2 separate regions of the Homo sapiens genome follow, and region 1 is linked to region 2. The links come from fine-mapping of genetic effects on gene expression. A gene starts in region 2. The other region holds a variant in brackets. All regions are shown on one strand. Distances are between the middles of the regions. Region 1 overlaps FADS2 (fatty acid desaturase 2). Region 2 holds the start of FADS2 (fatty acid desaturase 2).

Evidence for each region. PIP is the estimated chance that this variant, and not a neighbour inherited with it, causes the effect. A credible set is the group of variants that fine-mapping cannot tell apart.
Region 1: its variant is the best candidate, but not a certain one, in a credible set for the expression of FADS2 in testis (GTEx, PIP 0.65).

Annotation. Positions count from the first base shown.
Region 1 is chr11:61,851,701-61,863,213 of GRCh38, reverse strand. FADS2 (fatty acid desaturase 2) reads right to left here. Exons shown (of 12, transcript NM_004265.4): 6 at 6,143-6,203; 7 at 5,684-5,760; 8 at 145-242. Among named protein-coding and RNA genes, the nearest start is that of MIR6746, 21 kb to the left of the region's middle. RefSeq lists enhancers at 965-1,465, 1,466-1,966, 5,720-6,221. The variant C/T (reference allele first, on the strand shown) is at 6,893.
Region 2 is chr11:61,822,964-61,832,315 of GRCh38, reverse strand. It overlaps FADS2 (fatty acid desaturase 2), which reads right to left and starts at 4,016. Exons shown (of 12, transcript NM_004265.4): 1 at 3,719-4,016. The coding sequence starts at 3,925. LOC124902680 (a long non-coding RNA gene) reads right to left here. Exons shown (of 2, transcript XR_007062696.1): 2 at 8,344-9,286. RefSeq lists silencers at 3,951-4,050, 4,071-4,170, 4,291-4,730 and enhancers at 4,322-4,999, 5,000-5,677.

The DNA of each region.
Region 1 (11,513 bases), 30 kb before region 2:
CCCAACCAGCCCAGGACAGCCCCTGCCAAGGGGCCAGGATGGGAGGTCCCCAGGCAAAGTGGAGCCGTCCGAGCCTCTTCTCATGCCAAAGCCATCATCAGTGCCAGTGGAGGGCCCAGGGATGAATCAGCAAAGCCCAGGCACCTGATGAAGTTGAGGAAAAGGAGGGCTCCCAGGATGCCGTAGAAAGGGATGTAGGTGATGAAGAACCGGATGTAGTAGCTGACGGCCCAGGCCAGGTCCTGCGGGGAAAGATGAAGTTAGGTGCAACCTGCCCTCTCCTCTGCCCTGGCACCAAGTGCGTGCCCCAGATGTGCACACACCTCACACTCAGGCCTCTAGAAGCTGGACCGCAGCCCACTGAAATGCAATGGGCAACTACACGCCACCTGCTTGCTCGGGGTTTGCATGGCTGCCTTTGTTTCTAGGGAAATGCTGAGTGTTTTAGCATCAGGAAGTGACTGTGCCCTGTTTTTCGGGAGAGAAACGGACCCTCCTGCTGAGGGGCAGCCATGGGGTAGGGGTGGGGGTCAGCAGCCCTCTCGTGGGGCAAGGGCGATTCTGAAGGTGCGCCCCCAACCCGGGGCCAGGTCCCCAACCGTCCCCCAGTCCTGTCCCTCCTCCTCAGCACCTGGGTCTCCTCCTGGCATCTCCTTCCAGCAGGACAGAGGGCTTGGAGGGGTAGGGAAGGTCAGAGGTACCATCGTCCCTATCTCAGAGCTCTCACAGCAGAGGCTGGCCTCCCCACGCCCCACTGTCATCCTGTGTCCCTCCACTCTGCTCTCCTCCCTGCCTCTGGCTGGACTGGTGTCAGGGACTGGGCTTGGACGTCTTCTCTCATGTACTGGGAGGGTGACTTCACGGCTCCACCCTGTCCACTGTCTCTCTGCCACCCAAGTCTTGTCTCAACTGGACCACAGCATCAGCTTCCCACAGTCTCCTGCTTGTCCTCGTGGCCATGGCAACCAGAGTGGCCTTCGCTCCAAGCAGGTCCCAACTCTCCCCTGCTAAAGCCCCCATCCCACCCAGTCACCCACGGAGCCTCATGGGGTTAAGAACCTGTCTTTACTCAGCCCCCTGACCTAGCTTACTCCCTCCCCGGGGCCTCTGCATGGCCTGTTCCCACTGCCAGGGCGCTCATCCTGCCATGAGTTTAGGTATGGTGACATGCCACAGGCTCAGCACAGGTGTCCGAGGTGGAAGGTGAGGCCAAGGGACTGCCCTGTCTCACTTCAAACGACTGAAGAACAAGGTCACATTTGTGTCTTAAAATAGATCCCCACCCACTGGAGAGGGGGAGACTAGGAAGTTATTCCAGCGGCTCAGACATGAAATGACAGAGGCCTAAACCAGAACCCACGGCACTGACAAGGAGGTGACAGATTCCAGAACTGTCAGAGGCAACGGTGGCTGCATTTGTGCCTGCTTGGCTGTGGGGAATCTAGGCTGGTCCTAGGTGATCAGGGGTCGGGTGCCAGCAGCTGAACAGGAAAGGAGGAAGGGAGCGCTCAGGAGAGGCTGGAGATGGCCTTGGGGCCAACATTGGCCGAGGGCAGGACCTCACGTTCCAATAAGGTGGCCTTCAAGGTGAGGAGGGAGGCAGATGTAGCCAGTTCTGCTCCCACTTTCCATCACATTCCTTCTATTCTGTGTGTGTGGTGCAATAGTGTGCAGTGTATCTACACATATATGGAAACAAAATGAGGATGGGGTTACGGATTATTTTTTTTTGGAGATGGGATCTTGCTTTATTGCCCAGGCTGGAGTGCAATGGTGTGATCATGACTCTGTCCCAGGCTCAAGCCATACTTCTACCTCAGCCTCCCGAGTAGCTAATTTCTGTTTTTTTTTTTTTTTTTTGAGAGGGAGTCTCGCTCTGTCGCCCAGGCTAGAGTGCAGTGGTGTGATCTTGGCTCACTGCAAGCTCCACCTCCTGGGTTCATACCATTCTCCTGCCTCAGCCTCCCAAGTAGCTGGGTCTACAGGTGCCCGCCACCACGCCCGGATAATTTTTTGTATTTTTAGTGGAGATGGGGTTTCACCGTGTTCGCCAGGATGGTCTCGATCTCCTGACCTTGTGATCCGCCTGCCTCAGGCTCCCAAAGTGCTGGTATTACAGGCATGAGCCACTGTGTCTGGCCTTACCTGGATAATTTTTTTTAAGTTTTTATAGAGATGGGGGGGTCTCACTTACTTGCCCAGGCTGGTCTCGAATGCCTGTGCTCAAGTGATCCTCCAGCCTTGGCCTCCCAAAGTACTAGGATTACAGGTGTGAACCATTGCCCTGGCCCAACTTTTATTTTTAAGAGACAGGGTCTCACTCTGTTGCCCAGGCTTGAGTGCAGTGGTGTGATCACAGCTCACTGCAGCCTCAAACTCCTGGGCTCAAGCCATCCTCCTACCTCAGCCTCCAAAGTAGGTAGATTACAGGCGCGCATCACCACGCCCAGCTTTTTGTAGAGACAGGGTTTCGCCCATGTTGCTCAGGCTGGTCTCAAAACTCCTGGCTTCAGGTGATCCCTCCCACCTCAGCCTCCCAAAGTGCTGAGATCACAGGCGTGAGCCACCATGCCTGGCCTGGACTTCTTTTGAGTGTAGAGAGCAACACATACACAGAGATCGCTGGTTTCAGGGGCAGAGAGCCCAAGAGATCAGAAGCAGCCAAAGAGGCGGAGCGAGGGGGTTGGGAAGAAGCCAGCAGAGGTGGGGACCTGGAAGCCAACAGGAAGAACTGCAAGAGGGAGTGGCCAGTGGTGTCAGATACAGCAAAATTCCAGGAGGGTGAAGCGTGGGAGCATCTCAGGATCCAGGACGTGGCCCCGGGAACAGGGAACCTTGCCAGAGCATGTAAATCTCCCCGGGAAGCCTCCTTCAAAGATCTTAGGGTTTGTCACCTCTTTCCTCTAAGCCAGGGTCCCCCAACCTCCACACTATTGGCACCTGGGACAGGCTGCTTGTTGTCATGGGCGGTTCTCCAGGGCATGGCAGGGTGCTAAGCACCATCCTGGCTAGACGCCCACCAGATGCCAGTAGCACCCTCCTCTCCTGAAGTTGTGACAATTAAAAGTGTCTCCGGATACTGCCAAAGGGCAGAACAGCTCCCCTGAGAACCAGTGCCCCAGGTCATAGGTGCGCTCCTGGCTCTGAAAGCCCCATGGGCTCATCACATTGTCCCCACTCTGCCATCCCCTTTTAGGAACATAGGGTGATTTCTTTTCCTGTTTAATACTTTGTTCCTTAGGGAACAAGCACAGTCAAAAACAAACAAAAAAAAGAAGTTGCTCACTGCAAGCTCCGCCTCCCGGGTTCAAGCAATTCTCCTGCCTCAGCCTCCTGAGTAGCTGGGACTACAGGTGCACACCACCATGCCAGGCTAATTTTTTGTATTTTTAGTAGAGACGGGGTTTCACCATGCTGGCCAGGCTGGTCTCGAACTCCTGACCTCATGATCTGCCCGCCTCGGCCTCTCAAAGTGCTGGGATAACAAGCATGAGTGACTGCGCCCGGCAATAGGCCACTTATGAGTTAGAACGGGATTGGATGCTAGAGGCAAGGAGAGGGTGTAACATGTATAAGGAGGGAAAAAACATAATGGTGCTAGTCTCTAACTTGAGCCACTGGGTGGATGATGGAGCCATTCATTAACATGGAGACCATCAGGATTAGGTTGTGGGAGAAGAGGAGAGGACTTACATTGAATATGTTGGATTTGCAATGGCTGGGACACCTCCAAATGGAGTTAGATTGGATATATGGGTCCAAGACTTGGAGATAAAATTTGACTTGGCTGCTCTTAAATTCACAGTCAGGGTGAAAAGGACAACTTCAGTTAGCAAGCGATAAAACAGTAATCAACAGGCCGGGCGCGGTGGCTCACGCCTGTAATCCCAGCACTTTGGGAGGCTGAGGTGGGCAGATCACCTCAGGTTGGGAGTTTGAGACCAGCCTGACCAACATGGTGAAACCCTGTCTCTGCTAAAAATACAAAATTAGCTGGGCATGGTGGCGCATGCCTGTAATCCCAGCTACTTCGGAGGCTGAGGCAGGAGAATTACTCGAACCCAGGAGGCAGAGGTTTCGGTGAGCCGAGATCACGCCATTGTACTCCAGCCTGGGCAACAAGAGCGAAACTCCACCTCAAAAACAAACAAACAAACAAAAAACAGTAATCAATAAACAAGTCCACATTTGGTTAAGAGAGGAAAAACTTCCCCATGGCTATTGGTTGGAGCATGAGGGACAAATAGACTGCTGAGAAAGACTGGATTTTAAGCAAGCATTTCAGAAAGTGACAATTTAGTCTTTGATAATTTTCAGATAAACAATTTATCTGCCGGGTGCAGTGGCTCACGCCTGTAATCCCAGCACTTTGGGAGGCCAAGGCGGGTGGATCACGAGTCAAGAGTTCGAGACCAGCCTGGCCAACATGGTGAAACCCCATCACTACTAAAAATACAAAAATTAGCCAGGCATGGTGGCCGGCGCCTGTACTCCCAGCTACTCAGGAGGTTGAGGCAGGAGAATCGCTTGAACCCAGGAGGCGGAGGTTGCAGTGAGCCGAGATCGCACCACTGCACTCCAGCCTGGGCGACAGAGCGAAACACCATCTCAAAAAAAAAAGATGACGTAATTACAATGGGCCCTAATGCAATATGACCAATGTCCCTATTTTAAAAAAAAGGAAAAATTTTCAAGAATCCACTTTTGGTGAAGAAAAAAAGAAAATTAAAAAATAGGCCAGGCGTGGTGGCTCATGCCTGTAATCTCAGCACTTTGTGAGGCTGAGGCGGGCAGATCACTTGAGGCCAGGAGTTCGAGACCAGCCTCGCCAACATGGAAAAACCCCATCTCTACTAAAAATACAAAAATTAGCTGGGCATGGTGGCCGGTGCCTGTAATCCCAGGTACTTGGGAGGCTGAGTCACAAGAATTGCTTGCACCCAGGAGGTAGAGGTTGCAGTTGAGTCGAGATCACACCACTGCACTCCAGCCTATGTGACTCTGTCTCAATAAATAAACAAATAAACAAAATAATTTTTTTAAAGAGGGATATTTGGACACAGATACAGATACAAATATGCAGAGAGATGATGTACCGAGAGGGAGGACGAAAGCCATCAACCAGCCGATGAGAGGCCCAGAACAGAGCCTTCCAGAGCCCTAAGGAATCCACCCTGCTAACACCTCAGTTTTGGACTTCCGGTCTCCAGAACCGGGAGAAAACACATCGCTGCTGCTTATGCCACTCAGTTCGTGGTGCTTTGTCATACGGTCTTCGCAAACGACCACACCTGTCATCTCAGCCAACGCCCAGCTGCTCCAACTTCAAACCAGGGTGTGGGGCAACCCAGTTCATGGGACTCAGGGCCCACAGGGAGCGGGGAAGGGAGATGGCCACACTTGCCTCTCATCCTGCTGCCTTTGAGAACTTTCTCGGGGGCTCTGCAAAAGCAGGGGCTGCCCCAGTGGACTCCCTATGTCTGAGGGAGAGTAGAGATCTTTAGGACTAGGTCCTGGTGGCCCCAGAGGGAGTCCTTTCCTGAGAGGCAGCTACCCCAGGGAGGAGATGCCTGGGGCCCCACAGGCTCCACTGGGGCACACGAGGAGGCAGCGTAGGACCCCCGGGTCCCCCTGTCCCAGTCACCCTCCTCCCCATGCCAAGCCAGCTGTGTCCCCAACTCACCACCCAGTTCTTATGGACGATCATGGTCATGATGATCTGGTACTGGAAATACATGGGGATGAGCAGCGGCGGCCCAACTGCAGGAGAGAGACAGGCGCTTAGAGGCATCCATTCCACCCTGCCTGTGCCGGAAGGTCAGGGGAACCCAGGCCCAGCACTGAGTGCAGGGGCCAGCCCTGCAGACGTGGGCAGAAGCAGCCAGGGACCCCGGGGCCTGCAGAGAAGGCTGGGAGCCCTTGAGGACGTGTGTCACCCCTGGGACTCTCTGAGCCTCTGTGTCCCCATCAGGCCTGTAACACAGGCTGAGGGGTCTGCACAGCAAGGCTGCTGTGGCCCCCGCTTCTAACAAGTTTAGTGTCACTTTCTGGATCTGAAAAAGATGTCAGGTAGGAGGGAGAGACACGCCACTCTGGGGGGAGGGGAGGGTCCCAGAGTGATTTCGGGGCGCCGAGCACTCACTCAGGAAGAAGTATTCGTGCTGGTGATTGTAGGGCAGGTATTTCAGCTTCTTCTTGCCGTACTGAGGAGAGAGGAGAGATCATGAGCACCCAGTAGCCTCAGCTCCCAGCCTCCCATGTTCCCCAACCCATCCTGCAGCCACCATCCCTTCTATCTGCTCAGGGCACACCACTGTCCCTTTCCTGTCAATCTGCACCCTGGGCCCACCAAGCCTGGGGCCCCTCCAGCCCTCTGGGCTCCCCATGCTACAGCCAGCAGCGGCCAACGCTTCCTCAGCCCTAGCCGAGCACTGGCCCGATGGCATCGATCCTCTACAAGGCCGGCACTTCTGAGGCTGAGGCTCAGCGTTAAGCCATGGCCCAAGGCCACAGGAAGTGGCCCTGACTGGGATCAGAACCCAAAAAGCTGACTCTGAGCCCATGTGACAGGCACTAAACAAATGTTTGTTGAATGAATGTGCAACAGAGCAACTCTCGGCGGAGCATAAGCACCCAGGGGAGTTCCTAGGTCACCATGGAGAGCTCCCGGAGCCCGCAGTGGCAGGGAGAACCTAGGTAAGGGCCCCAGAATTGCTGCCAGTCATCAGGCTGGGAGCATCTGCCTCCCTGGAGCCTCCCTGTAATTTACAAGAGTGAATCACTCCTCCCCAGCTGGAGCCTAACCTTGAGGACAGAGGAGGCCACAGCACAGACTCCTCAGGCCACATCTGGCTACCTGAGGTCCCCATGACGGCACCGGTTTCTTCCCCAT[C/T]AGAGCCTGCACCTTGGGCAGCCTGATGCCCAGAGGCTCTAATGGAGGAGGGCTGGGCTGGGTCCTGGGCATCGTCATTGTCCAATGCCAGGCATAGGAACCACGGCCCCAGGGGATCCCTGGAGCCCTTAATTCCATGGTCCAGCCCCTAGGGACCAGCCCACCCTGCACTTCCAGGACTGAGACCAAAAGATGCCGCTCACTGAGTGACACCTGCTCCTCTCCCTTGCAGTGTGGGGAGGCTGGGCTTGCAGCCAGCAGATGCGCTTGAGCCGACTCTGCCTCTCACCAGTGCTGAGACTATGTGAGTCGCTTAGCCTTGCTGAGCCTTGTCTGGCATTTGAATCAGTGGTTGGTAAGAGGAGCCAATGAGAACATGGGCATAATGCCAAGTGCTGACCCCAGGACACTGCCCGTCACCCTCCCTATACCCCTGGATCCGAAGGCCAGAGATGCCTCCTCCTATAGTGTCCAGTCATACTTATTGCAGTCAGGAGGTCAAAGTGAGTTACAGAGGGAAGGGACCTTGGATGATGCCTAGGCCAGTGCCCCTCTCATCCAGGTGAGTAAAATGATTGTCCAAATCACAGGGAGAGCATGGATTCCTGAGGGAAGAGGCTGTGGGTGGGAACCAGGTCCACCCTGTCCCCAAGGCTTGCATCTTGGCGCCAATGGCCATGGTCACGGCACAACCAGCTGAAGAACCCCCAGAAACAGTCCCTTTGTTCTGTGTGGCCTCCTGAGCCTTGGCAAGGATCTCACTCATTCCCAGAAAGGACGGCCACTTGCAGGAAGACTATTATTAAGGCCAGGGCTGAGGCCGGCCATGGAGAGGTCCGAGCCAGGGAGGCCTCACAGGAGCCTTTCATGAGTCTCCAGTGGACGGAGTTGCTGGAGGAGCCAGCACTGCAGACGTTGCTCTCGAGGTGGCCAGTCTCGGGGCCTGCAGTGGCCCACAGAACAGGCCCCTGAGTCCTGCTCTAAGCTTCTCCCAGAGGCCAGGGAGCAGGCTCATAGCCCCAGCCTTGGCATGCAGTGTCTCCAGCTCTGCTCAAGAGCTCCTCCCCACCGCATCTCTGTCCCACAGAGCATCCCATCCCTCTCGGGCTGGGCCGGCTGTACTCGGAAGTGAGCACAGAGGGCAACCCAGGCAGGTCAGCAGGGGCCAGGGCATCCTATGGAGGGACTGAGGGCTGGCCACGCTGTTGTGGGGGCCTGGGAGGCACCTGGGGAGTCTGTTTGGAGCTGCATGTGCACAGTAGGCACCCTGTTCTCATGGGTGATGGTGGCCTGTGGGTGGACAACACAGGTTACAGGGGCTGCCTCTGCTGGTAAGCACTGCTGGCTTTAGTGTGCGTCCCTTCAATGCCCCAGAATGACCCTCGGGAGCCAGGGGGTCCTGCTTGCCAGGCAGCAGCAGGCCTCAGAGTGGGCCTCTGTGGGACGGTGAGCAAAATGCTCATCACAGTCACGCACGTGTATGTACATGCGTATGGTGACATACCACTACACATCTGTGCCCATCTCGATGGCCTCAGCTGCAGCGGCTCTGCTGGGGGATGGCCAATACTCCCCTCCCAAACCAGAAAGTACAACTGTGGGTTTGGGATACGAAGCCCTGCCCTGTGGCTAACTCTCTGCTCTCATCTTTCCCACGCTCAGTTCTTTGCCAGAGCTTTGCCGTTTAAGTCATGGGACCAGGGAAGGGAGGGAGAGGTATTTTAGAATGTAGCAAGCTAGGGGGGTGAGTGCCTGGCTGTTTAATTGATCAGAAAGCTGGGGCTACCCAACAAACATATTTCACAAGGGCCCCCAGGACTCCGAAGCTGTGGTTTGCAGCCAGATGGTTTGGGTTCGGACAGTGGTGTTGCCTTTTCCTTGCTGTTACCTTGAACAAGTCACTTCATGTCTCTTGGCCTTAGCTGTTCCATCCATGAAATGGGTCGATGACAGCTCCCGCCTCACGGGTTAAGCAAGGATTAAGTGACGTTGTGCACGCACACTGCCCATCACAGTGCCCGGTCCACAGACTCACTCAACAAGAGTCAGGCTTCTTCCCAACTGGGGGCTCAGAGCCCCAAGTGTGGGGAGTGGAGGACCCCACACATCTCCTCCTCCAGAGGAGTCCCCGTCACACACACAGAGAAAGCCCAAGAGGCAAGGAAGACACATGACTTTCACCTGGCTGGGCTGCGGCCAAGGGTGTGGGTGGCACACATGGACCTCCCCCTGATCAGCAACAGTGCCTTCCCAGGCTGCGGTTGACAGGCAGAGACGCAGGCCAGGGGCAAGGGAGGGAGTGCAGCCAGCCCTGGCGGCGGGGCTGACTCTCCTGTCCTCGGCCTCTCCATGCACCTCAAGGCCAGGCTTGGATGAGGGCCTGGGGGATGCCGGGCCATGTGGAGGGGACCTTTCAGCTTTGGAACAAAATGTCTGAGGAATGACAAGGGCCCTCCTTGTCCATCGAGGGTTGGGGGAGGGGAGCTGTCGCAAAGCCCAGTCTCTGCCTCTGGGAACCTGCAAACTCACACACAGAGAGAAACAGGCGGCACGACCTCCCCAGCAGGAGCAGAATGGCAAGGTCCCAGTCCAAGGTCCCCGAGAGGGCGGCATGTGTGTCCCAAGGCGGGATGGGTGGCTTAAGCCTGTTCATGAAGGTCTGCCTCAAGCAGGAAGCCCAGGAGGTTAGCTTCAGACAGTCAGAGCAGCAGAGGTGGTTTCCCGGATGGGAGGAGGAGGAGGATCTCAGGCACCGCACGGCTTCTGAGGCCCCTTTACACTGCTACCGGGATAATGGTCTCACCAGCCCCCTCAGAAAACGGGGATATGGCAAAAGAAGAACAAAACAAGGCTGCTGCCAATATCACCGCTATTAAACTCAGCTCTGAAATTTCCCGTCAATGCAATAAAACCCAAAGCAGAAAACAGAGTGGAGCTATTAGAAAGAAAGAGACTACTTCAACATCCAGATTAGAAAGAAAGAAGGAAAGGAAGGAAGGAAGGAAGGAAGGAAGGAAGGAAGGAAGGAAGGGAGGGAGGGAGGGAAGGGAGGGAGGGAGAGAAAGAAAGAGAGAGAGAAAGAAAGAAAGAGAAGAAAGAAAGAGTGACTACACTTTTTTTCTGTTTGTTTTGTTTTGTTTTGTTGTTGTTGTTGTTGTTGTTGTTTTGAGACGGAGTCTCACTCTGTCGCCCAGGCTGGAGTGCAGTGGTGCTATCTCAGCTCACTGCAACCTCCGCCTCCCAGGTTCAAGCGATTCTCTTGCCTCAGCCTCCAGAGTAGCCGAGACTACAGGCGTGTGCCACCATGCCCAGCTAATTTTTTGTATTTTTAGTAGAGACGGTGGTTTCATTGTGTTAGCCAAGATGGTCTCGATCTCCTGACCTCGTGATCCGCCAGCCTCGGCCTCCCAAAGTGCTGGGATTACAGATGTGAGCCACCACGCTGGGCCGAGAGACTACGTTTTCATTATTTTCTAGGATATGATCATCTACCCAGGAAACTCAAAAGAATCAACCGAAACACAACTAGAATTACGAAGAGACGTAAGTGGACACTAGCGGGACAAAAGATAACTATCCCATTCATTGGAAGGCCATGCAAACAAAAATTTAGAAAAAAAAGAAAATTAAGATAACTACCCCAATATCCACTGCTTTCCCGAGTACTGGAGAACCTCCAATCATAATGACAAAATATAAAACATATAAGGATTGCGTTTTAAAAGAAACATCCATGAGACATATAAAGAAGTACAGACCTTGGCCGGGCACAGTGGCTCATGCCTGTAATCCCAGCACTTTGGGAAGCTGAGGTAGGCGGATCACTTGAGGTCAGGAGTTCGAGACCAGCCTGGCCAACATGGTGAAACCCCATCTCTACTAAAAATACAAGAATTAGCCGGGCATGGTGGCGGGTGCCTGTAGTCCCAGCTACTCGGGAGGCTGAGGCAGAACGATGGCTTGAGCCCAGGAGGTTGAGGCTGCAGTGAACCGAGATTGCGCCACTACGCTCTAGCCAAGGTGACAGAGCATGACCTTGTCTCAAAAACAAAAACAAAAACAAAAAGAGAGAGAAAGAGAAGGGGAAAGGCACCCCACTACGAGCTTCCAATGAGTTAAGTGCCAAGGATGAATGAGTGTGAGTGTGGCCCCCAAGTCATCCAGACGGTGGCCTGGGAGAGGACAGACAGCCCAGCCCAGGCCAAGCCCGGGCTCAGGAGCACTCACTGCCTCATATGAAGAAGCAATGCCACCTCATGGGGGTGCCGGGAAAACTGGCCGACTCTGGAGAAAAGTGAAGGCCGAACATCATCCTACCCATATCCCATTTGGCAGAAGTTAAAGATTGAAACACAAAACCTTAAAGAACTGAAAATAATATGTATGAAGAACTTTCTAAGCACACAAGAAATGAATCTCTGGGTAAAGTGAATATACTTTGCTACATATGACAAAAAGAATCCTCCTGGACAGCATCAATAAGACCAAAATGCAGAAAACGAGGAAAAGGGCTTTACTGCGGAGCCCGCGCTATTCACAGTTCCACGTGCTGGGAGCCGCTTGGCAGGGCTGCTTTGCTTATCTGTCCCCAGAGATAGAAGCCCTGGCCGGCATCCTTGCT
Region 2 (9,352 bases):
TACAACCCTCCTGCCCCGTGCAAAGGAGGCCAGAGTTCCACTTTCGATCTGTTGCGTTTTCACAAGAATAACATAGGAGCAGGTTGAAAGGTGGAACAAACCTCTGGTCTCTTCTCACCTTCCCTTGATTCTAAGAGGTCACCAATGCAGACCGGGCAGGAACAGTTGCTGAGACAAGGGCTAGGGGTAGGGGGCTGATGTCTAGAGGCAGAGGGTCCAGATCCAAGCCCCAGCTTGAGAGAGAGCAGGGGGAGCACATCCCACAGCTTCAGGTCTCTGTCTGTGAATAATTCATCTCTGTGTCTGGGCCCAGCTCAGAGCCATGGAGACACTCAATTAATGTTTGATGAATTGTCGCTGAAGATGAACAGTTCTGCAGTGGTGGGACTGCTGTGAAAAGAGCAGACACGCTCTTAGGGCGCGGGTGAGGGTTCCTTTTGCCCACAGCAAGGAAAAGGCGAGAGAAGCACCGCAGTACCAAAGGGAAGAGATCAGAGGTAGCAACAGGAAGGGAAGGAAGCTGGGAGGGGAGGACTTGAGGTCAGATTCTGAGTTTAAGTCTGAGCACTGCCACTTAAGCCAGGTTTGATACCTCAGAGCAGTGAGAGATGCCTACGGGGCTGATCCGAGTATGAAATGAAGTGATACATATGAATGTGTTTTGTAAGTTGCAAAAATCAAGCAACTTGCATTATTATAGGCAAGGTCAGGGTTTAGCTTCTGTGGAAGGACCACGTAACAGTTGCCCCATCCTTCTAGGGAGATGGATCTTGACTACCTGGATCTTTTGCTCTTCAAAAAAAAGAAAATGCCCTATTGAGGCCCCTGATTGTCCCGAGAATGGCTTCCCTGACTTCGAGGATTGTCCCAAGAATGGCTACCTTGACTTCCGACCTGTTTCCAGCCTTGTGTTAGGAATGACTGCACTGTGATGGGCTCAGAACATTGCCTGGGAATGTTGCAGGGAATCCAAACTGTCTTCTGATCAGTCCCTCCCCAGACTGTGCCTGGTCCATAAATTGTCACTCCCCATGCTCTGGGGGACAAACCATCACCCCAAGGGGCAAAGCCACTTGCTCAACAGCCTAGGCAAGGGTCTCTGGATTTCAGTAGCCTGTTCCTGCTTCTCTCTTTAGGTCCCCTTTCCACATGCCCCACCCACCCCACGCTGCTCAAGGCCTTTTTCCAACCTGGTCCTGGACAGTTTAAAAAAACAAAACAAAACAAAGAGAACCCAGCTGCTCACTCCATCATCACCATCATTCAAATCTGTATCCCCAGTTCGTGTATTTCATGCCCCAAAAGTCTTATTTTAGAAGACAGGAAGCTCTGGGGACAGGGATTGCTTTTACGTGTTGCTACACCAAATAAAGCTAGCATAGATTTAAATTTTTTCTTCAAATTCCTCTTTGCATACTTTCCATTCTAGCTGTTTCATAATACTTGTTCTTATTCCCGTTTGCCTGATAACACCCCATTGCATTCATCTAGTGGTTACAGTTGCTGGGTGCTTTGCCACAAATCAGTCTCATTGAAACAGGTACAGGTGTACCTTATAGATGAGGAGATGGGGCTCAGTCAAGTGACAACACTTAGTGGATGAGCCCAGTAATGACATCTTTCTTCAATTCTAGATCTGTTTGCAGCCCCGGTTGGCTCCCACCCTAGCTTATGAAAGTAACAAAGCAACCAACATCCAAGATACCAGATTTATAGTCCATGAAAGTTATACAGAAAGCGCTGGAGCAGGACCAGAAATGACGAGACTATTACATTTTTATGAGACAGAGAAAAGGTCAGGGAAGAGTAGGTCATTCTAGTCCTCTGTTAGGAGAGATGTGAGCACTGATTTTTGGAGGGAACTCAGTGTTAAGGTCAGGTAAGCACTGAGAACATCCAGAACAAGGAAGAAATAAATCAATCTGATATGGTAATTAAACCAGAAAGGTCAAGGCAATTGCCAGACTAAGCGTTCACATAAGAAAATATGTTTAACAATGTGGAATAATCAGACCAAATTCATCGTATTTGACTTTTCCTTCTGGAAACTTTTTGGTGAGGGCCTGGACAGGACAGGAACCTTCTACAATTTACCTATGAAATCAGAAACAGACCAGCCCAAGTCCAGCAACATATAGTGGAAAGATCCCAGCCAGGATCCAGAAGGTCCTTTACTTAGGAGTTACATTAACCCAACCTCCTCACTGGGCCGCGTAAAGGTCCAGGTGAGATAGCACTGAAGGTATGTGAAACATACCCACCTAAGTTCTAAATAGCATCACAAACCCACTGGGCTTAAGCAATGTCCACAAGCAAGTAAAACAGGATGGGACTGAAAGCTGTAGGGAATTTCAGTATCGCTGACCTTCCCAATCTTAGATAAGCCCTGGCCCTGCTGGCCCACACCACCTGTCCATTGTCCAGCTTGGGTTATGGTGGCCTGGTCTGGCCTTCCCCTAGGCCTGTCTCCATGAGATGCAAGAGGTGGGGAAGTTAAGGGTCGGGCCTACACAGCTTAGAGAGCAAAAGCCCACCAACAGTTGGGCATCCTAGACCTCCAGGTGGAATGATCTACGTCAAGTTCATCCCTCCTTTCTGCCTCTCTCCTATTCACTTTCCCCAATTTCTGTATCCCATCAGACCTTTTTTCTCTGCATCCAATTCACTACCACCACCAAAAGCCGCCCTTTCTTCCCTCCTTGCCTCTGTTCTTTTCCTTCTGGCCCATTCGAATCCATGGGATACCAGCTGCATCCTTAAATAAATGCCAGGATTTCAGACTGGGGTCCCCGGTGCGGGTAGCTGGTGCGGGGTAATCACTGAGCCACGCATTTGGTGGGGGTAAGGTGGGCAGCAATGGCTCCAGAGAGGCCCACAACCTTTAGGAGTGCAAGATGAGGGAAGGGTGTTCTTGGCAGGATTTAAAAAGAGAGAGCCATTGAGTTGAACGCCCGAGAGTAACCTCGAGTGCAGACGGACCTGTTGCCAAGCCAGTCTAGTGCTGCTAAATCCACCGGCTCAAGGCCTCACTCGACCTGGGCTTTGCAAACCCCAGGCCGTTCTCCTTCCACCAATCCCGGACGCCGGTCCCCAAGAAGGCCGGCTCGAGCTTGGGGTGAGTCTAGATAATCCCTGGAGCGTGGGAACCCGAGCTGCTGGGCGGTTTTTCCCAGGTGGCCATTGAGGAACTTCTTAGACAAGAGTCCCAGCAGGAGCGATCTCCGGCCGGGGACGAGCTTTCCTTCTCGCCACCCAGTCTGGATGGAGAGTGCGGGACAAGCGCGGAGTCCCACACCTGGCTGCCTGCGCTCCCGCTCCTTTCAGCGGCGCGCAGGGGCGGCCATCTTCCCCGCTGGGGGCGCCAAAGCCGTCTGGCCCGAGCGCCCCTCTTGGGGAGTCCCTGCCTCCAGACAAACCCCGAGGAAGGGGAGGACGCGTGGGTCCCGGCGCGCGCGGTAGATGCTTGCCCTGTTCTCCACCGCTGGGACTTTCACCGCAGCGCCGCCTCCCCGGGTCCCAGATCCGGTCTCCACCCCAGTCGGCCCAGAGGAGGAGGAGGATTGGGGAGGGGGTACGAGTGCAATAGATGCACTTTCCTTCCCTACAGGACGTCCCAAGCTCCATTCAGCGCCGGAGGTCTGTTTGGCCCACGGGGAGCCAGGGATCCTGACTCCGCCTGCAGCAGAGAAGGGTGGCTGGGGCGCCCCCAGACCCTTACCGTTGCATCTTCTCCAGCGTAGTGCCCGATGACCCGCTGGCCCCCCGGGTGCTGGATGGACCATTTGGTGATGTTGTAAACCTTGCGGTCAATGACCAGCCACCTGTCGGTGCGCAGGTTATGCTTCTGAATCTCCTCCCAGCTGAAGGTGGGCACCGACACCTCGCGCTCGGCGGCCCCCTCGCCCTGGTTCCCTCCCTTCCCCATGCTGCCTGCCGACTGTGACGCCCCGTGCACTGCGGCCTCCCCGCGCCGGCTGCTCGCTGCACAGACGGCTGCCTCCCAGCCGGTGTGTGCAGCCCGGGCCCTCTTCGCTTTCGGCTTTTGTCTTCTCCTACTCCTCCCACCGCGCCCCCTCCCCCAGCCTTCTCGCCTGCGCTCGGGAGTGTCCCTGCCTTCCTGGCGGAGGATCCCTGGCTTCCCAGTGCCCCCAAGCGGTCCCCTTCCTCCGCCCCTCCCTCAGCCCTCCCGCTATGGACTTTTGCCTCCAGTAAAAACTCCCCGGGAGCTCAGGGCCTCGACACCTCCTCTGCCCGCCCCTCCGGCTCCCCCCGCCTCGGGTTCCACATCCTCCCGCGTTCCCCGCCGCCCGAGTTTCCACAGCGATCAGCAGAGCGCCTGCACCAATCCGGTCGCGTCGCCCCGCCTGCCATTGGCCCAGGAGGATCTTTCGAAGGCCAGCGGGCTGGAGCGGCGGGTCCCCGGCTCCCCCGCCCTCCCGCGTGGAGTCGAGCCCTGCTGCGAGGCAGGCTACGTGTCCGACCTCCTCCCTCCCCCACTCTCCGGCCCCGGGCGCCGGAGGAGATCCTAGAGGAGATCCCGGTGGGGGCAACGAATGGGCTCCGCGCGCTCCGGGGCGCGTGCGCGCACGCCCGGCGCTCTGGGGGTTTGCACCTGATGCCGACACAAAGCCGGCGCGGCCACCAGGGTGCCAGCAAGCGGCCGGGCGGGTGGACCGGCGGGCTGCGGGGCACTCAACTCCAGGGCCGGCTTGGCTAGGTGACGCCCTTCCTTGGCGCGCGGCAGTCGAGACTCCAGTATCCCACATTGTCCGCGCCATCCACATTCTGGCGCCTTTCTGCAACCTCCCTAGAGACACAAGCCGGCCTTGGATTAGAGGGCTTTGAACCCTCTAGTCAGACAATCTTAGAAAAGAATTGCGGAACCTCTGCTCTGCTTTCTTGGTCTGGGCGCCATGGCTGCGGTGAGGGGGAAGGGAGGGGAAGGCAGAGGAAGGGGGCGATGAGGAACTGGCGCGGTCCTTGCCCTGGTCTCAGTAAGCTCAGTCTCTTTGGGAATCGTGGAAGCAGACACATCATTGGGCAGTGATGTTGTGCAGACTCCAGCAAATAAAGACTGCCGTATCGAAGGGATAGGAGGAGGGTTAGGTCTTTTAGGCGTGGGGCAAGAGACAGGCCCCTCAGACCCCAGCTGGATGGGGCGGCTTAGTGCCGGGCGTCCTGGGGGAAATGGGCCTGACTGCATCCGGAGGGCTAACGGGACACGTGGGAAGTAAGGATGAACAGAGAGGGTGGGGTGCACGAGGCTTGGGAATCACTAGAGGAGTTATAGGGCCCTCAGATTTCAATGGGATTTACAGGTGCCTGTGTGCTAGCACACCCTAATCATTAGATTCTCATCACAGGCTGAGAGGTAAACAGGACGCATATTATTACATCTCACTTGAAAATGGAGAGCCTGAGATTGAGAGAGATGGTCAAACGGGCCCTGCCCAATCTAAATTTCACAGCAATGCAGGGGTGGTGGGGGGATCACTCTGCCCAACTGGTGGGGTTGTACTTGGGGGGGCAGATGGGCTCCCTTTCCTCACATTCACACAGTCCCCAACCTCTCCCATCACATTTCATGCTGGTGTCAGCCCTGAGCATCCTTCATTCACTCCACAGACTGCAGACATAAAGACAGTAAGGCCTCTCTGTCTTTGAGTGTGAGCAGACATCCCAAACAAAAGCCTTCTGTACAAAATAAGAGGATGAAGCAAGACCTCCAGAGAGTATGGTGGCCTTGAGGACTGTCAAACGTTGACGGAAATGGAACCAAGAAAATTATTTTCTCAGAAATGGATTAACATACCATATAGATAACTTTAATGAACATTTGTAAAGGGTGTGGAGCTCGGAGCAGGGAGTGATAGCTGAAAGGCAGAACCAGGGAGTATCTCACAGAGGCTTTGAAGGTTCAGGCCCTAAAAGGGAGCACGTATGGGTGGCCTGTGTAGGGTGGCTGAGAAGCGTGGACCGGCCAGGGCCTGGGGTCCCCAGCGGCTCCCAGCACAGTACCAGCCAGGGTAGGTCCTGAAAAAACATAAAAACATGTGTTGAAGACACAAATGAATGAATGAAGTTCAAAGAATGGCTCCAATGAGGCCGGCGGTAGATGGGGCTCAAATTGAGAAAAGCCCCAGCAGCCTCAGTAAGGGGTAGGAAGGGAGGACTTTACCATGGAGGAGGCTTGGACATCCGTAAAGCAGGTGTACTGTGATCAGATCCATGGTGTAGAAAGATAACTCCAGAGGCTGGGGCTGGACTGGGATGTACGGGAGAAACTGGGGAACAGTGATGAGTTCAAAGATGAGGGCAGTGCTCGAGGAGAGGGGAGGGGAGGCCTGAATTAAGAGAGAACTTTAGGGGGCTGACCCCACACTGGACACTGCCATGTGCCTCCCTGCCCTCTAATTTTTTTTTGAGATGCAGTCTCACTCTGTTGCCCAGGCTAGAGTGCAGTGGTGCGATCTCTACTCACTGCAAGCTCCACCTCCCAGGTTCACGCCATTCTCCTGCCTCAGCCTCCCGAGTAGCTGGGACTACAGGCGCCTGCCACCACACCCGGCTAATTTTTTTGTATTTTTAGTAGAGACGGGGTTTCACCGTGTTAGCCAGGATGGTCTCGATCTCCTGACCTCGTGATCCACCTGCCTCGGCCTCCCAAAGGGCTTTTTCTTTCTTTTTTTTTTTTTTTTGAGACAGGGTCTCACTCTGTCGCCCAGGCTGGAGTGCAGTGGTGCGATCTCAGCTCACTGCAACCTCCACCTCATGGGTTCAAATGGTTCTACTGCCTCAGCCTCCTGAGTAGCTGGGATTACAAGCACCCGCCACCATGCCCGGCTAATTTTTATATTTTTAGTAGAGACAGGGTTTCACCATGTTGGCCAGGCTGGTCTCAAACTCCTGACCTCAGGTGATCTGCCCACCTCAGCCTCCCAGAGTGCTGGGATTACAGGCGTGAGCCACCCTGCCCAGCCTAGAATATCCTTTGGAGGTAGAATCAAGACCGCATTAGTTGGAGGTACAGGGGCAGGGGTGATGGTAGAGATGAAGGAATAAGAGAAATAAGTCTGATTCTAGCATTTGAGTTGAGCAAATGAATAGATAATGGGACCATTTACCAAGATGAGGGAACAGAGTTAGTACAGGGGTGAAAAATTAAAAATTCTATTTTAACGTTATGTTTGAAACACCTAGGCTGGGAGCAGTGGCTTATGCCTATAATCCCAGCACTTTAGGAGGCCGTGGTGGGTGGCACCATGCCCAGATAATTTTTGTATTTTTAGTAGAGATGGGGTTTCACCATGTTGGCCATGATGGTCTCGATCTTCTGACCTCGTGATCTGCCCACCTCAGCCTCCCAAAGTGCTGGGATTACAGGCGTGAGCCACTGCACCCGGCCAACACCTGATTCTCTCTTACTGCAGAAGGGTCTCCTCCATGTGACAAAAAAATATGGCTGTATTTGCTAAGCTACGCTAGCAGAAATAATTCTCCCCCATTCCCTGCTCCCAAGGATTAATTCCAGTTTAATGGGCTCTGCATCAGATGCTAACCATTGGGCCACTGTTATCAGACGGCTGAGTTACTCTATTAGGTGTAGGTCATAAGCCAAGCAGCAGACCTGGGCTTTGGGGAACAGGGTCTGTTCCTTTTTGTGGGAAGTCACAAACCAAAAGCAATTACAGACCGCTACAGTATTCCTTTCCCATACCTACCATGTGATGTTAGACCTCTGTCTCTGACCTTCAGTTTCCTCATGATAAAAAGGAGACAGTGATTTTTCTTTCTTTCTTTCTTTCTTTCTTTCCTTTCTTTCTTTCTCTCTCTCTCTCTCTCTCTCTCTCTCTCTCCCTCCCTCCCTCCCTCCCTCCCTCCCTCTCTCTCTCTCTCTCTCTCTCTCTCTCTCTCTCTCTCTTTTTTTTTCCCCCAAGATGGAGTCTCACTCTATCCCCCAGGCTGGAGTGCAGTGGTGCAATCTTGGCTCACTGCAACCTCTGCCTCCCGGGTTCAAGCGATTCTCCTGCCTCAGCCTCCCGAGTAGCTGGGATTACATGGCATGTGCCACCACACCCAGCTAATTTTGTATTTTTAGTAGAGACAGGGTTTCTCCATGTTGGTGAGGTTGGTCTCGAACTCCCGACCTCAGGTGATCTGCCCACCTCGGCCTCCCAAAGTGCTGGGATTACAGGCATAAGCCACCGCACCCAGCGGAGATAGTGATTTCTAACCTATCTCATCTATTTTAATAACGAGGCTCAAAGGACACAAGGTATGTGAAAGTGCCATACATGTATTTTCTTAACTAGCAATATTGGTGAGGTCAAACTTTAACCAAGCTCACTAGATAATGATTTATTAATATGTGGTGAAAGTCATAACTATTTTTAAAAAATGAATAATTTTCAACAACAAAAATGGCATCAACTTAGTAAGTGCATCAAATTTAGATGCCTTAAATGACAGGCTGGGGACCCTATCTAAGAAACTGGGTTAGGCCAGGCGTGGTGGCTCACACCTGTAATCCCAACACTTTGGGAGGCCAAGGTGGGAGGATCACTTGAGCCCAGGAGTTTGAGACCAGCCTGGGCAACACAGTGAGACCCTGTCTGTACAAAAATATAAAAAATTAGTTGGATGTGGTGGTGCATGCCTATAGTCCCAGCTACTCGGGAGGCTGAGGTGGGAGGAATGCTTGAACCGCAGAGGTGGAGACTTCAGTGATCCATGATCGTGCCACTGCACTCCAGCTGGAGTGCAAGACAGAGCAAGACCCTGTCTCAAAACTCAAATAAAATAAGCTGGGTTATTATCTCTAGGTGGACATTGATAAAAGGTATGGTATGTTAGGTAAAACTTTAAAGCACAGATTGCTAGTGCTGGAAAGCATCTGGACAATCTCTTCACTTTACAGATAAGGGATCCGAAACCCATAGAGGTGGACATAATGTCCAAGATTACACAGCAGTAGGTGGACTAGCAGGTCCAGGTTGCAGGTGTCTCAACTACAATCCTTATTCTTTCCATTCTACCACATTGCCTCCCTTCCTTGGTACATTCTACTGAAACTTGATGGATCCTTCTCCAACTCTGAAGTGCACAGAGAATAGAATTTGAGATCTTCACATCCCAGAGTCTAGTGCTTCGTTGCTGCATCTTTAGTGCTCATAGTATTGGTGGAGAGGTACTTGGTCAAGGAGCTGTAGGACACCATTCCTTTCCTGTTCTGGTGATAAGAAGTGCAGTAAAACTAAGGAATGCATACTAAGTGCTCGAGGAATACCTGTGAAATAATTCAGCAGTAAATTGGTAATTTGGCAACAAATGACAAGAGACTAAAAATGTTATT